Linked DNA regions of Homo sapiens. The protein of the gene in region 2 interacts with the protein of the main gene of each other region in a pairwise test. Each region holds a gene or a part of one and is shown on either strand. Other genes may lie near its edges. The genes, in order: SLC10A6, CNIH1 and CD53.

Region 1 (3,732 bases), on a different chromosome or scaffold from region 2:
AAAAAAAAAGTACAAAAATTAGCTGAATGTGGTGGTACACACCTGTAGTCCCAGCTACTCGGGAGGCTGAGGCAGGAGGATGGCTTGAGCTCAGGAGTTTGAGGCTGCAGTGAGCTATGCTCACACCACAACACTCCAGCTTTGGGGACAGAAGGAGGCCCTGTCTCTAAAAATAAAAAAAGGAACCTTATAATATACCTTACTCTGCAACTTGTTTGCTTTTTTTCCCACTTCATCTATCACAGACATCCTCTCAGACCAATACATTTAAACTTATTCTTTTAAAGAACTGCGAAATATGCCATAATCTAAATATGCCATAATTTCTTCAATCACTTCATTAACCATAGGTCAGTTGCTTTTAGTTTTTTGCCATTATAAATAATGTTATAATAAACACTCTCATACATACTTCACTTGAAATGATTCTTTTCTTTCTGTGAATTCCCAAGGTGGAATTGCTATGTAAAAGTCTGTGTTTTTTGTTTTAATATATACTTTCAGACTACTTTCCAAAAAGATTGCTACATTTCACAATCTTGCCTACTCCGGATGTGATCAGTCCCTTCTAATTGTCATGCCAGCATTGAAAAATTGATCTCACTCTTGTTACACTCTTATTTTTTTTTTTTATTTTTTTTTTTTAGCTGGAGCTCACTCTGTCACCCAGTCTGGAGTGCAGTGGCCTGATCTTGACTCACTGCAAGCTCCGCCTCCCAGGTTCAAGCAATTCTCTCTGCCCCAGCCTCTGGAATAGGTGGGATTACAGGTACCCGCCACCACACCAGGCTAATTTTTTTTTTTTTTTTAATTTTTAGTAGAGATGGGTTTTACCATGTTGGCCAAGCTGGTCTCGAACTCCGGACCTCAGGTGATCCACCCACCTTGGCCTCCCAAAGTGTTGGGATTACAGGCGTGAGCCACTGCACCCAGCCGACACTCTGGATTCTATCAGGTTGTGCTTTCTTTCATGTCAAGTGGCTTCTTCTGTGTCCTCCTCTCTAAACAATCTTGCTTGTCAGACTTCTTCTCAACTTGTAGGAGTTCTTTTAAAATTAGGGCTCATATTACCATGAATAATACAAGTATTTTTTCCAAGCATGGTGTATATCTTTGACTTTGCTTATGACTTGCCATAATTAACATTTATATAGTCAGAGCTGTTTTTTTAATGGCTTCTGAGTTTCTTATCTTAAAGACCTACCCTGATCCGAGGGCATTCAAATATTGTCTTCTACTTTTTACTTTTATGCTTATATTTTCAACTGACTTAAAATTTATATTTTGCATGGTAACAGGTATGAGACTAATCCATTTTTTCTATTAATATATTGAGATGCAAGTGTGTCAATATAATCTACTAAAATAAACCATTTTCCACTATACTGAAGTGTCACCTTTATCATTTATTAAATGCCCAAGTGTACACAAAATATTTTCTGGAAATTCTCTTCTAGCTCATTGATAAATAACTTTCTTTTTTCCTGAACAAATACTAGACTAATTACAGTGTTCTCATATATGGTAGGGCAAATACCTCCACATAAATTTCCCTTTTCAAACTTGTCTTAGCAGTTCTTGCTTATATTTTATTCCATATGAAACCCAAAATTATTTTATCCTATTAAGAATGCTTACTTTAAGCAAAGATTTCTTCCTGACTAGTAGGCAATTTAAAAGAAAAAAAGCAGTTTGCCACAGCTCTCAAACCTCTGTATCCACAAAGAGGCTGTTTAGAAAGTTTTTTCCAAATTCTTAGTCTATGATAGTGCTACATTCCTTGACTCTCCATATTACTAAGTCCTGAATGGAATTCCATATTATATCACTTTACTCTTGAACTTCTGGAGAACCAGCACAACATTTCTCTACTGAATGGCTTTGGCTCAAACAGCAGAAAGGTAAGACTCATGATTATGGGAAGCAAAGTGAGATTTATATCCGACTGATTCTATATCCTTGATTACCTATGTGATTGCTTCCATGTTTATACAATTTTCAAGCCCATGGTGATCATGATATTGGTCAAGGATGGCAAGAGGTTATCCTGGTGCTCTGCCAACTGTTACAAATACCAGCAAAGGTGGAAAAGCACACAGTGAATGCCTGTGAGTACAGTGGAAAGTCACGCCTTGTATTTTTAGCCATGAAATTCCAATGTAGCATAAACAGAGGATGTGGCTAAGTAAGTCTCTTGACTTTTCATGTATAGGAAAATTTTTGGCAAAATCTAACTTCAGTATAACAAGATTCCACTTGCATTGAGAAGAATAGCATCATCATCTCCAAACTATTACAGAAAATAATGAGACATATTCAGCAAGTCTAGACAAACAGGTCAGTCTTGAACCCTCCCTTAAAGCAGGGAAATTACATATATACACATTACATTAAAATGCAGTGTCAATAACATTTTGCAATTGGAGATTAAGTTATTATAAATTGTTTTAATTTCAAAAATCCCATAAAATCAGGAACTCTGACCCTCAAAACTATGAAAGTATACACTTGCTTTCCGACTGAAAGAAATAAAAAATTATCCAGCTAACCAGATGGACACGGAGTGAGCTATAAGATCATACCAACAGATTTGACCCTAGAATAGAGCGTAAGGCCCGATTTTCCATCCCTCAATATAAATGTTACCCTTGTCTGCTGCCTTCCAATAATAATGAGTATTTATTGAGCACTATGTGCTAGGTGTTATGTCTCATGCTTTTATATACATTTTCTCTTTTCATCTACATAATAACTCTATGTGTGAGTATTATTTTCATTGTATAGATAAGGAAATTAAAGTACATAGAGACATGGAAGCTTGCATGAAGTCTCATGAATTCAGTCTCCGTTCTGTCTCCAAAGCCTTAAATGCAAAGGACCTTCAGTTTTCCACCAAGACATGTCAGATAGACCTGAACAATTTGAAGTTCTATTTCCAGGTTCTCTACTGAAGGACTAAGAACTTCTTTAAAGTTCAAAGGTCAAAGTTGGCCACTGAGCTCCACAGGCTCCAACACCACCAGTGGTCAGAATCCTTTGTCTGCAGCTGAGGACATAAATACATCCTTACGGAAGAATGGACCTCTTGTATATATCAAAAGTTCTCAAACAAAGATAGTGGGAGGCCAGGCGTAAGTGGCCCACACCTGTAATCCCAGCACTTTGGAAACCCTAGGTGGGAGGATTGCTTGAGCCCAGGAGTTCAAGACCAGCCTGGGCAACATAGTGAGACCTCATCTCTGTAATAAAAAATAAAAAATTAGCTGGGTATGATGGCGCATGCCTATAGTCCCAGCTGCGCTGCTCAGAAGGCTGAGGTGAGAGGATCACTTGACCCCAGAAGGCCAAGACTTCAGTGAGCCATGATTGTACCACTGCACTCCAGTCTGATGACAGAGTCTAAGACCCTGTCTCAAAAAAAAAAAAAAGAAAAGAAAAGAAAAGAAAAGAAAAGACAAGACAGTGGGAGCTGTCCTGAGTTGCATCAATAAATGGACACCTCTTTTCTTTCTTTCTTTCTTTCTTTCTTTCTTTCTTTCTTTCTTTCTTTCTTTCTTTCTTTCTTTCTTTCTTTCTTTCTTTCTTTCTTTCTTTTTTTTTTTGAGATGGAGTCTCGCTCTGTCACTTGCCCAGGCTGGAGTGCAGTGGTGTGATCTCGGCTCACAGCAACCTCTGCCTCCTGGGTCCAAGCATTTCTCCTGCCTCAGTCTCCTGAGTAGCTGGCATTACAGG
Region 2 (3,732 bases):
TACTTGGGCATCTTTAGGGATTTATCTGTTTTATTTTTGTTATACTTCTGTAGGAAATTTTGTGGGTGTCTTTGCTCAGCCACATAGCTGCAAAAAGATTTGAAAATCATTAAGAATATTCTCAGAAGAGGTTCGAAAACCCTAGCCTATAGCACTCAAAGAGAAACCCATTCAACAACATAGTTAAAAAATCCCTGTGACCAGGCACAGTGGCTCATTCCTGTAATCCCAGCACTTTGGGAGGCCAAGGCAGGTGGATCACCTGAGCTCAGGAGTTTGAGACCAGCCTGGGCAACATGGTAAAATCCCATCTCTACAAAAACTACAAAAATTAGCCAGGCATGGTGGCATGCACCTGTAGTCCCAGCTACTCCGGAGGCTGAGGCAGGAGAATCATTTGAGCCGAGGAGGTGGAGGTTGCAGTGAGCCGAGATTGTGCCACTGCACTCCAGCCTGGGTGACAGAGTAAGACCCTGTCTCAAGAAAAAAAAAAAAAAAACCCTTGAAGTCACCTGGAGAAAATGTCCAATTAAATGTCAGTTTTAAAGACAAGTTTTGTATTCTGTTAAGTTGGATCTTGTTATAGACAAGTACTTATGATTATCATCCTTGTCTTGAGCTTTATTACTAAAATGCATTGGGGTTATATACCACGGCTGACGTCAAGTAGCAGACTAATAACGTCCATAAGTAATCAGAAATTAGTATTTTCTAATTACACATGTATGTTTTTAACATTTGTGTTAGGTGTCATTAGCCAAGGGAAATCCCCCTGGTGAGTTCTGCATTTTTTTTTTTTAATCCCTAGTGCTATTTTTTTCACCCCCTCCTTCCAGTTAATATTTATTGAACACTTAACTATGTGCCAGGCACTATTTTATATTTTAGGCCCTGGGACATAATAGTAAATACAACAATCTTTGTTCTTTCAGAGATTACATTCTAATGTTTTATTATTTTCCTTCTATTGTTGTTTGGTTGGAGTTTTTATTAGGGCAGGTGGGTGAATTTTATGGAACTCTAGAAATTAAAAAAACCGTCTTTTTATGAATCTAAATTTTAACAGGGAAATAAACAGTCATGTTAAAAGATGGAAATATGTAACTTTACTGATTACTGATAATATTGAGCAACACTTTCACATATAAAGATACTATTCCTAACTCATTAAGGGAAGGGTAGCTTAGTTTGTGTGTCCCTGGGGTGAGTAGTGTTAGCAACTAAAATGGCTCCCCCATCAACTTGCTGCCTTTGTTTTCTTTCTTTGTCACCTGAAATGATGCCACAAAGTGGTGCAGAGTCCCTATTTTGACTCTTAATGTACATTCTAGTGACCCTTGAGGTTGAAGCCACATTCCTCCAGAGTGTGGACAAAAGCATCCTTACAAATGTATGTGTTTGGGCACCAATGGGAACACATTGAAGAGTTCGAATCCATCTCTAGTGTCCCACTGAGCACTGTGCCAAGGGAGGAGGAGCATGCACAGATAAATAAAAATGGTCCTTCTCCCTGAGAGTGTAGAGGGGCAGACAGACCTGTGTGTAAATACCACACTCCAGGGTGAGAAAAGCCATATCGATGGCATTATAGAGTCCCATGCTGTGTGGAGATGTGGGCAATTACTTCTGCCCAAAGGAGTTAGGAAAGCCTGCAGAAAGAAGTTGACCTAGGAAGGTTTGTTTTTTTTTTAGGATAAAGAGGAATTTGGATAAACAGTTGAAATTATTTTTCTACTCAGAAGATTATTTCGAGTAGAGATAAGTTGAAATAACTTGAGCAGAGGCATTGACGAAATTGAAAATTGAAGGTATTTATTACAGTAATACCAAATTTTAGTGATACTGAGATAAGAGTGTTTTCACTTTAAATCGCATTCTGGTTCTTTTTGTCATATATGAGTTTACTGTAAATTGGTATTTGGGATCTTGGTGTACTTTTGTTCTTGTTTTATTAACTTTAATAATTATTTGAAGATGGGGCAGGTTTGTTGCTGCTTTTAATTAAAGTGAGTGGTCCTAACTGTTTTAATTTTATTTTAGATTATAGCATTTGATGAGCTGAAGACTGATTACAAGAATCCTATAGACCAGTGTAATACCCTGAATCCCGTAAGTTATAATATAGGATTTATCTTTAGATTTTAAAAATATGTTTGTTTTTAACTTGAAGTAATTTGAAAATGGCCAGTATTCTGAGTAGCATAATATATTTGTACTTTTTGAAGTAGGCAGAATTTAAAAAATCTTCTTTTTCCTGTCGTGCTTGACTATTCTATTATTAATCTGCTGGTGATCTTGTCAGCTGTCATACTAACATTCTTCCAATCTGCTTTTTACATTGTCGGCCAAAGACAGTTGAAAAGGTCAAAAAGATTAAAAGAGTCAAAATTGCATTAAAGGTGTGTACTGCTTTTTAGTTAAATGTTTTAATGCTATATTCATTTCATGGGGAGGGTTAGGGCATTTGTATTTGTAACGTTTTGTTCAGTGTGCTCGTTCATATGCCTGTTGAGGTTTATGATTTCATGAAATTTCATATTTTATGCAAATATATGCTTGCTGGCCCAGTCAAGTAGGGAAAGCTGTTAAATGCGTATGCGTTTTTTTATGTTATAGCCATAGGCACTTCTATGTGAAATTATTTGGTGTAGTACTTGAAAGTTGGTTAACATAAAATGACTAATAGATGGTGAGATGATTCTCGGGTTGTGACTTATTGTGAGGTAGTATGTGAGTGAAATCTTTAGTATGGACTTATCTGCCATATCTAGTTTTATCTTTGGTTTGCATATTCTGGAATAAATGAGTCATTCTTTCAGCTGATGTTTATTCAGAGCCTGTTAGGTGGATAGCTCTGTTCTGGGGGCTCTGGGATCTCGCAGCAATGCCATTCTTTGGACTTAGGGTGCCATAATTTTGTAGATAACAATTTGTATACAAATGTCTATGTGGTTATTTCTAGTGTGTATCTACTTTCTGTTTCTAAAACAGGCCTGAATTACACTGAGTTCTGAGCCATCATGAATTTAGTGATAATGTAGCTCCATTGTGCTTAGGGTTTTTGAAAAAATATATATGTATGTATTTTTAAATTTTCTTTTGAGATGGGGGTGTCTCTATATTGCCCAGGCTCTTATCAAACTCCTGGGTCAAGTGATCGTCCTGCCTCAATCTCCTGGGTAGCTGGGATTACAGGCACACACCAGGGTACCCAGTTTGTTTTTTTGTATTTTTGCCTGCATTTAGGAAGATACTCTTTTAGCCTGTGTATTTGATTTTGCCTGACTGGTCAGTAATTGAAAGGTTGGTTGTTTATAAGAAAGCAGTGGGTATGTCTTCAAGAAATAAAATACAGTAATTCAGCTTTAAAAATTACTTAACGAAGGGGAGAGTTTGTGTAGATTTTAATTGTCTAGCATACTAGTGTACTAGCACTAGGTGCTAGAGGGATTTTATTTGGAAAAGCATCTAGAAAGTTAGTTTGGTACTTTATTATTGTTTCCCAGATAAATGTGGATGGTGGAAGAGATTTCTAGTTTGTCTTTAGAGAACTGTTACAGTAAGAGTTGATGTAGGTACAATTAAAAGTATTAACTTATTAGCTGTTTCTTTGCTCTTATGAAACAAGACATAAGAAGATGAATTTGCCTTCTCTTGGAAAGCATTAAGTGTTAATTTTAAAACATCTTAACCTAAGTAGTTGAAGTTGTTACCAGGAAATGAAGAAACTGA
Region 3 (3,500 bases), on a different chromosome or scaffold from region 2:
CCAAGAGAAAGAATTTTTTAAAAAGTCCCTCTTCTCAGATAGTTGTCAGACTAATGGCAAAGGATGGAAGATAGCAGACATGGGGTAAGGCAAATGTTTTAAGCAGTCAAAATTAATGTTGGGGTAAAAAAGGTGAAGGAGAAGGAATAAGTGAAAATGTTTTCTGTTGTGTGTTATTAGCATAAAAGGAGTAAGCATCGAAAGCTGGAAACAAATATGAGTTAGAACCATGGCTAGGACCCTTCTTTCTACCATTGTACAGGGCTCCTCTCAGCCACTACCAGCAGTCCTCCACCCAGAGGTATCCCTGATCTTGTAGAAAGGACCAGGCCCCAAATGATCTAGTTTACCAACCTTTTGCTTAACTGCTTCAATAGGCAGATGTCAAAATTGCTTAACTTATTCAACAGGTGGTGGTGTGTATGTATTATGCATGTAGTGCTCTGATAGGCACAGCAGGTAGGAGAGAGCAAAGAAGACAGTTGATCTGCCCTCTAGAGTCTAATTGTAGAAAAAGAACACATATTTTCACAAAACAAAAGAAGGCTTACAACGGCCTGAGGAGGCAGAACAGGAACACCCTGTACTCGTGCAAATGCCCCTGGATGCTCCCAGAGCTGAGTGGGAGTGGGACGAGAATGGGGATCAGTGCTGTGAGAATGTATCTGCTTTGTCCCAGTTCTTCATCCTGCTGCTGATTATCCTCCTTGCTGAGGTGACCTTGGCCATCCTGCTCTTTGTATATGAACAGAAGGTAAGTTATAAAGACAACAACTTATTGTCTTAATACTGAAAGTGGGGAGTATGCAGTGGAGAAGTTGGTACAAAGTTACAGAATAAGTTCTATAATAGAGATAGAAATGAAGTGGAAGGATAGAGGAAACAGAGAGTAATTGTAATTGGGGGGAAAATTTGTATGAAAGAGATTGTATCTGAGTGGTATCTTGAGGGGTGCCTGGAAAGAGCAGTAAAACAAGTGTCTCTTCCTCTACTTGCTTTCCTCTGTGTGTTTGGCAGGAGAGAATGTCTGCCTCAGTGCCTAAGGATAGCCCTTGCTTTAATTGCTCCTTTTCCTCCCTTGTAAAGCCAGAGCTCTAGAAGGAAGCAAGCCTACTAAATACTTCTTCCTTCAATGCCACCTCATGCTCAGCCTGTATGCCCATAGATAAACACCCTCCCCTCACCCTTAGTTCTGAGGAGACCATTTGGAAGGGAAGCGCAAGTGGAACCACTAACCTATACTGGAAATTCCTTATTCCTTGAACTCACCTGCTTTTTACCATGTCTCCTCTGCTGGAATGTGCCTGCCCAGCTGAATGAGTATGTGGCTAAGGGTCTGACCGACAGCATCCACCGTTACCACTCAGACAATAGCACCAAGGCAGCGTGGGACTCCATCCAGTCATTTGTGAGTACAGGTGGAATCCTCTTCAGATCAGCCCAGACTTCATTTTCAAGCCTAAATCCTTGGGGGCTAGTTCCTTTTTCTGGAAGTTTCAGAATCTAAGGTCCACATCCCTGAATCCCAGAATAATGCCTTGGCTATCACAAACATGGGAGCCCAGTAATTAGTCTGATTAGTACAAAGTTCTCTACATTCTCTCTTTCATCCTTTTCTAACATGAATAGGTTTATTTTCTAAGTTCTGCTAGGATGTGAAGAAGACCCAAACACAGCAAACTGGATTAGTTTATGTATTTTCCAAAATTTTACTGAAAACAGCATTGTATAACACAAGAAATTGCCATTGAGTTCCCGAGTTGCCCAAATCAGGCTTGTTACCTAGCCCACCAACATCCCATTCCTCATGTGCTGTTTCCACCCACAAACGTGTATATGTACAGCATATACAAGCTCTGCATTCCTGACATGATGTGTTGGGAGATAAAGATGGAGCCTTGCACCAGTATAATCTATTTGTGTCTCGAAACAGTACCACTATGAAAGCACGCTGGCTTAGTGTGGAGTAGAAGAAATGGCACAGGAATTAGAGCCTGGAGACCAGAATTGGGTAGCCCTGGGGAAGTCACTTAACTTATTTAGATCTCCAATTCTTTATTTTTTTAATTCAGTTTAGAAAACTTTTTATTACATAATTTTTAGAAATATACAAAAGAGAAAAACAGAAAAATGAATCTCCCAACTCTTCAATAGTTAACATTTTCCAGTGTCATCTCATCTAATTCCCCACACTTTTTTCGTTAGAATATGTTAAAGCAAATACTAGACAATATATTATTTCACCCACTAAATATAAAAGAACTTCTTTTTAATACACCTAAAATTTTATAATTTCTTAATACCACTAATAAAGTCTATAATTAAATTTCCCTAATTTTCTCAAAAAATTTTAATTGACTTGTTCAAATCAAGATCTTAACAAGGCCTATGTGTTTATATTTGAATGATAGGTCTCTCTATTTATCTTTTAATCTATAATAGTACACCTCTTTGTTCTTGCTCTTTGTGGAAAGAAATTAGGCTATTTGTCCTTTAGACTTCTCCACTCTCTAGATCAGGCTAGTTGCTTCCTCGAGTATTTTGGTATCAGGGAGTCTCTGTCTCCCATAAGCCCCATGAACTTAAAAGTTTGATGTGGTTTTTGTTTTGTGGTAAGACTGCCATAGCTGTCACTTCCTGTTGCATCGTGTAAGCAGGTACATAATGTCTGATGGTCCTCCTTTCTGTGATCTTAAGATTGGTTGGTGGGTCCAGGGGTGGTCAGCCTAATCCCTCCATTATGCAGTCCCTGGGTGCCTTATTCTTGATCTGTAAAATGTGACTAGATTAAGCACAGGGGTCTCTACTCCACAGGGATCTTATGTGAATGAAATGGTATAACAGATTAGAAAGCACTTTGTTTTAAGGAGCCCATAGCAATCAGACCAATTCTGGACTTCTGCTATAGAGTCAGATCTGAAGGGCACACCTTTTCCTCTAAGGTCCACAGCTTTTTTTCACTGTTGACTTTCTAACCATCATCATTTTGGGGGTTTGGCTTTTAGCTGCAGTGTTGTGGTATAAATGGCACGAGTGATTGGACCAGTGGCCCACCAGCATCTTGCCCCTCAGATCGAAAAGTGGAGGTAATTTTGTCGGCAATGTTTCTGTTATTGACCTCTTTGTTTAAATGTTTAATTACCTCGGAAACTGCAGTCATAGAGGACCTAGACCTTCTATTGAGAAACAGGGGACCTTGAATAAAAGAGAGGCCAGGGCAACAACCTTGGGTAATTAGAAAAGTCAGAAAAACATACAAACAAACTCATTTAGACTAGAGACACTGTGATTGATCTTGCTACACTAGACTATTACATTAGAGGGGAACAGTTACTTTTGTGTGAAAGTAGGAGAGGGTTGTGTCTAGATATTTCTTAAGCAAGAAGTAGGTCTCCTTATGGTTAAAGTGAAATGTATAGGGTTGAGATAGAAAAGTTTCTCCCTCTCCCTCTTTCTCTGCTCTTCTTCCTTGGAGATGGCAGAATCCAGCCCCTTAGGGA

What was found.
Region 1: the proteins of CNIH1 (region 2) and SLC10A6 interact in binary tests that used the Homo sapiens proteins (3 or more experiments, as listed by UniProt).
Region 3: the proteins of CNIH1 (region 2) and CD53 interact in binary tests that used the Homo sapiens proteins (3 or more experiments, as listed by UniProt).

What each region holds. Positions count from the first base shown.
Region 1 is NC_000004.12:86,839,284-86,843,015, forward strand, and holds part of SLC10A6 (sodium-dependent organic anion transporter), read right to left. Parts: intron 1-3,732. UniProt on the Homo sapiens protein: Transports sulfoconjugated steroid hormones from the extracellular compartment into the cytosol in a sodium-dependent manner without hydrolysis.
Region 2 is NC_000014.9:54,434,746-54,438,477, reverse strand, and holds part of CNIH1 (protein cornichon homolog 1), read left to right. Parts: intron 1-2,040; coding exon 2,041-2,109; intron 2,110-3,732. UniProt on the Homo sapiens protein: Involved in the selective transport and maturation of TGF-alpha family proteins.
Region 3 is NC_000001.11:110,893,648-110,897,147, forward strand, and holds part of CD53 (leukocyte surface antigen CD53), read left to right. Parts: intron 1-679; coding exon 680-754; intron 755-1,312; coding exon 1,313-1,408; intron 1,409-3,005; coding exon 3,006-3,086; intron 3,087-3,500. UniProt on the Homo sapiens protein: Structural component of specialized membrane microdomains known as tetraspanin-enriched microdomains (TERMs), which act as platforms for receptor clustering and signaling.